Linked DNA regions of Homo sapiens: region 2 is linked to region 1. Evidence: fine-mapped expression QTL. A gene starts in region 1. The other region holds a variant in brackets. All regions are shown on one strand. Distances are between the middles of the regions.

The links. PIP is the estimated chance that this variant, and not a neighbour inherited with it, causes the effect. A credible set is the group of variants that fine-mapping cannot tell apart.
Region 2: its variant is the best candidate, but not a certain one, in a credible set for the expression of NAT16 in thyroid (GTEx, PIP 0.77).

What each region holds. Positions count from the first base shown.
Region 1 is chr7:101,178,558-101,181,455 of GRCh38, reverse strand. It overlaps NAT16 (N-acetyltransferase 16 (putative)), which reads left to right and starts at 1,163. Exons shown (of 4, transcript NM_198571.3): 1 at 1,163-1,414. RefSeq lists a silencer at 994-1,288 and an enhancer at 660-1,382.
Region 2 is chr7:101,145,434-101,148,331 of GRCh38, reverse strand. No RefSeq gene overlaps it. Among named protein-coding and RNA genes, the nearest start is that of AP1S1, 7.6 kb to the left of the region's middle. The variant C/T (reference allele first, on the strand shown) is at 1,201.

The sequences.
Region 1 (2,898 bases):
TGCCTCAGCCTCCCAAGTAGCTGAGATTACAGGTGCAGGCCACTGTGCCCGGCTGATTTTTGTATTTTTAGTAGAAACGGGGTTTCGCCATGTTGGCCATGCTGGTCTTGAACTCCTGACCTCAGGTGATCCTCCCACCTCGGCCTCCCAGAGTGCTGGGATTACAGGCATGAGCCACCGTGCCCGGCCAGGCCAGGCTAATTGTTGTATTTTTAGTAGAGACGGGGTTTCACCATGTTGGCCAGGCTGGTCTCGAACTCCTGACCTCAAGTGATTCCCCCGCCTCGGCCTCCCAAAGTGCTGGGATCACAGGCTTGAGCCACCGCACCCAGTCTTGAGCTCACTTTATAGGTGGGATGGAGAACCTTGTAGGAGTTAAGAGCCTGGGCCACCGCCTTATTAGAGCAGGGGCAGCGCTGCACCCACCCGGGTCCCAGCTCCACACTTCCCTCTTCCTCCCCAGCCACCAGGATCAGCGTGGGGTGCAGCGCCTCCTGAGTGCAGAGGTCTGTGTGAATGTGCCTGGGTGTGCGCTGTGTACCTGGAGGTCTTTCTGCCTGCTGTCCCGTGGGGTACATTGTGGATTTAGGGGCCTTGTGCACCCGGGGAACCAGGGTGCTCAGGCACCCACGCAGTGGTGAGAAGATGGAGAGATCTTGGCCTCCCTCTGCCCTTTTCAGCCTTTCAACTTCTGTCTCTTGATGTCTCTTCGCCTTCCCGGTGTTCTAGGGTTTCTGATTCCCTCTATCAGTTTCCGGGGACGAAGGCTCGGAGTCCCCTTCCCAGCCGCTCTTATAATGGAGAGAGGAGATTCCATTGAGGGGTGGCTCCTGGAGGAGGGGTACTTCAGGGCAGTGGGGGACCCCCGGACAGAGAACGGAGGTGCTGGGCGTGGGGTGGGGAGATAACTAAGCCAGCAACACCAGCATCACCACCACCAAAACCCGAGACACCACCATCCTCAGTCCCACTCCCCAGCCGGGACACAGGGCGGAGTCTCGCCAGTAGGGCTTGAGGCCACCCAGCTGCCCAGGGCGCACCCCGACCCCCGGCCCCGCCAGCAGGGCACGAGTCCGCTCCGGATCCGTCCCGGGTTTCTTCCGCGTCGCCGGGGTCTCCGCCCCTCGAAGCTGCCGCCGGAGCGTCGCCGGGGGAGCCACGCGTGCCACCCGAACCCCTGAACCGATGGGCGCCCCGGCCCGCGTCGCCAACGGAGCTGCGGCGCTGCCCCAGCGCTGACCGACGTTAGAGTCGGGCTCCGACAGCGCGGCCGAGTCCCCGCGCGTCATCCTCCTTTGACTCTTGGGGGCTCCAAAGGGACCTCTCTCTTGGCACCGGGGGTGTCTGCGCCCGCCGCCCGCCCCGCTTGGCTTTGCGGCATCTCGGCCCTGGCTCCAGCTCCGGCTCCGGCGAGGTAGGGGGGCGGCCGGGCCTGGGGACTGGGGAGGGGGCTAGCGTGCTCCTCCACCGCAGAATGGGGCAGCAGAAGGCCACCGCCCCTCAGGGGGACCAAGCGGCTGCGCCCCCTTCTGCCCAGCCCCTCCCAGTCCGAAGACCCAGAAAACTGAGTCAGAGGCTGCGCTTCAGGTGTCCAGAAGCGCTCCCCCGCCCCCCTCTGTTGCCATGTCGCTCCCACCTGTCCCCAGGGTCCGGCGCCCAGGGGAACCCCCGCCAAGCAGATCGCTCCCTTTGCAATCTCCCTCTCCCCCAAGCCCAAGCCCCCAATCCGGGGTAGAGGCAGAGGGAAGACCCTCACTCGGGAAGACCCTGCAGGACAGCCCCCCCTTCTCCACTACTGTGGCCCTCTGGGGCCCTCCCCCCACCCCCTTTGGCTGGGCCATCTTCCTCGGCCCCTGCCTCTGCCCACCCCCTAGGCCTTCTCTCCCGCCCCCACTTCATCGCCTCTCCCCGTCTCTGTTTCCAAGGTTGTTCTCTTACGGCCTTTTTTCTGACTTTCTTTTCCCCTTGACCCCTTCCCCTCCACGGATCCCCGCCCCCCATACCCCGGGGCGAAGGGGGTGTGTCACGCTGCTTTCTATTTACAGTGTCCCAGGGGAGGGGGTGCGTGCTAGGATTTTTTTTTTTTCATCTGCTGGGCCCAGAGTCACGAGGTGTCATGTCTGTGATTCGGTGTCGAAGCCTCCTCCGGCTTCCCTGCCTGTCCCCTGCGGCCGCATCTCCTGTCCGCTTTTGTCTGCTCTCTGCCTCCATTCCCGTCCTTTTCGCTCTCATCTTTGGGCGCTTTGTGCAGCTGCCTTCTTTGTCTCCGCCTCTCCGGCGACTGGGCTCTCCCTTCCCTCCCTCTCCTCCCTCCCCCAGTGTCAAGAAGCCATCGGCCTCAAGGGCATCGATATTTCAGGTGTGTGGGGTGTGGTGGGAGTGGGGTGCGGGTGGGTGGGCTGCCGGCATTCCCAGCTCTGACTCCGATCATGCCCAGCTATGACTCTGATCACCCCCTCCCCAAAGAGATCATTCATATTTATGAGATTTAAAGAATGTCCCCAAGGATGTGGGGATAGACATGAAGAGAGAAATGTTATTCCTCTTTTTTTTTTTTTTTTTTTTTGACAGCGTTTCACTCTTGTTGCCCAGGCTGGAGTGCAATAGCGTGATCTCGGCTCACCACAATCTCGGCCTCCCGGGTTGAAGCGATTCTCCTGCCTCAGCCTCCTGAGTAGCTGGGATTACAGGAATGCGCCAGCACGCCCGGCTACTTTTGTATTTTTTTTTTTTTTTTTTTTTTTTAGTAGAGAGAGGGTTTCTCCATGTTGGTCAGGCTGGTCTCCAACTCCTGACCTCAGATGATCCGCCTCCCTTGGCTTCCCAAAGTGGTGGGATTATAGGCATGAGCCACCACGCCCGGCCAAGAAATGCTGTCCCTCTTTTAGGAGGGCGCTT
Region 2 (2,898 bases), 33 kb after region 1:
TCCACCTGCTTTGGCCTCCCAAAGTGCTGGGATTACAGGCGTGAGCCACGACACCCAACTTGGATTTCTTCATTGTTAGTGAATGATGAATGTGGAGGATCTATGAGTTAGTTGATCCGATACAGCTTGTGCATGGAGATGAATTGAGATTTGATGCAGTTGGCAGTTTAGGGTCATTATGGTTGTGTGAACCAGTGAATAACTTGGTGAAAACAGTGTTAATAAAGTTAATCTTGGCCAGGCACATGGTGGCTCAGGCTCGTAAGCCCAGCACTTTGGGAGGCTGAGGTGGCAGAATTGCTTGAGCTTAGGAGTTTGAGACCAGCCTGGGCAACGAAGACCCTGTTTCTAGAAAAAATAAAAAAAATTAGCCAGGCATGGTGGCACGTGCCTGTGGTCCCAGCTACTTAGGAGGCTGAGGTGGGAGGATCGCTTGAGTGCAGGAGGTAGAGGCTGCAGTGAGTCGATTTTTCCACTGCACTCCAGCCTGGGTGACAGAGCGATACCCTGTCTCAGAAAAAAAAAGATTAATCTTATAGTCATATGTGGAAGAATTTGAAAGGACAATTGGAAAGCTGAAAGATCGTCTGAGAGTTTTGGGAATCCTGACTCCAGGATGAAATGCGAGGGACAAATCAGGAGAGATGCCTCAAAGGAGCTGGTGATCTGAAGCTGATCATCATCTAAGTAGAGAGGAAGGGAGAAAAATCCTGGAGGGTTAGTGGTGCCACTTGTATAAATGGAAACATGGAAGAGGTGAGATTCTTCTTCTTCTCTTTTTTTTTTTTGAGATGGCGTCTCGCTCTGTCACCCAGGCTGGAGTGCAATGGCGCGATCTCAGCTCACTGCAACCTCCGCCTCCTGGGTACAAGCAATTCTCCTGCCTCAGCCTCTTGCGTAGCTGGGATTACAGGCGCATGCCACCACACCTGGCTAACTTTTGTATTTTTAGTAGAGACGGGGTTTCACCATGTTGGCCAGGCTGGTTTTAAACTCCTGACCTCAAGTGATCCACCCGCCTCGGCCTCCCAAAGTGCTGGGATTACAGGCCTGAGCCACTGCACCTAGCTGAAGAGGTGAGATTCTTCTTCACTATTAGGAATGGTGTTTGTACTGTCATCTTACAAACCACACTGACACCTCCCCATGCCTTTTCTCATGTGGTTGTAGAGGTGGTTCCTGCGGTGGTTGAGAGGTGGC[C/T]AGATGGATTCTGAAGCCTCTCATCTTTGTGAGTCTATGATCCATGTTCCTCCCCACCTTTTTTTTTCAATTTTTTTAGAGTCAGGGTCTCACTCTCTTGCCCAGGCTGGAGTGCAGTGGTGTGATCATGATCACTGCACCCTCAAACTCATGGGCTCAAGTGATCCTCCTGCCTCAGCCTTCCAAGTAGCTGAGACTGTAGGCATGCACCACCATACCTAGCTATTTTTAAAAATTTGTTTGTAGGGCTGGGTGTGGTGGTTCACACCTATAATCCCAGCACTTTGGGAGGCCGAGGTGGGTGGATCACTTGAGGTTAGGAGTTCAAGACCAGCCTGGCCAACATGGTGAAACCCTGTCTCTACTAAAAATACAAAAATTAGCCGGGCGTGATGGCGCACACCTGTAATCCCAGCTATTTGGGAGGCTGAAGCAGGAGAATTGCTTGAACCCGGGAGGCAGAGGTTGCAATGATCTGAGATCTCGACACTGCACTCCAGCTTGGGCAATAGAGTGAGGCTCTGTCTCAAAAAAAAAAAAAAAAATTGTTTGCAGACACCAGGTCTCGCTATGTTGCCCAGGCTGGTCTCAAACTCCTGGGCTCAAGTGATCTTCCTGCCTTGGCCTCCCAAAGTGCTGGGATTACAGACGTAATCCTATACACCACACCCGGCTGGAACACTCTCTGTGGTTGATGTTTGTCATTCTTTTCAGCACTCAGGTTCTAACCCCCCTTCTTGGAGTGTGGGAATCCCATGTCTTATGAATTTAGGGAGCAGATAGACCAACCTCCCAGAGTAGTATTTGCAATTTCCAGATATTCACTTTTGCAGCGTTGTTTCTGGGCATAGCATGGGCATGTCAGCTGGACTCTGCCCATCTGTGCACCTGCCAGACTTTGCTCCAGGAGAGACTGGGGTGGGCATGAGGAGATGGAAAGTAGTTAAGACCCTGGCAGAAGGACAGAGGATCAAGTTCCTAGGGTGGCAGTGGAGTGGCGCTATTAGCGGTGTCTTGCATCCACAGGACAGGCAGGGGCACAGGTTTGATGTGGGGCATTGTTCCTAGTGCAATAGTGTGAGACCTCCCTCCAATTTGGTTCTCTGGCTGCCCCAGCAATTCCCTGAAATGCCCAATTTCCTTCCTTCCTTCCTTCCTCCCTCCCTTCCTTCCTTGCTTCCTTCCTTCCTTCCCTCCTTCCTTCCTTCCTTCCTTTCCTTCCCCTTCTCCTCCTCCTCCTTTTTTTTTTTTTTTTTTTGGAGCCTCACTCTGTCGCCCAAGCTGGAGTGCAATGGTGTGATCTCGGCTCACTGCAGCCTCCGCCTCCAGGGTTCAAGCAATTCTCCTGCCTCAGCCTCCCGAGTAGCTGGGTTTACAGGTGCCCACCACCATGCCCGGCTAATTTTTGTATTTTTAGTAAAGACGGGGTTTCACCATGTTGGCCAGGCTGGTCTCAAACTCCTGACCTCATGTGATCCACATGCTTGGACTCCCAAAGTGCTGGGATTACAGGTGTGAGCCACTGCACCCAGCCGGTTTCCATTTTTTAAAAATAAAATGAAATAAAGTAAGTATTCCATTGTCATCTCAAACTTCACTTGCCAAAAACGTGTTGCCACTTCCTTCCCCTGAAATTATCCCCTCTTGGTTTTCCATTGTGGTTGATGTTACTGCCTTTTTCTAGCCTTGCAAGCTGTA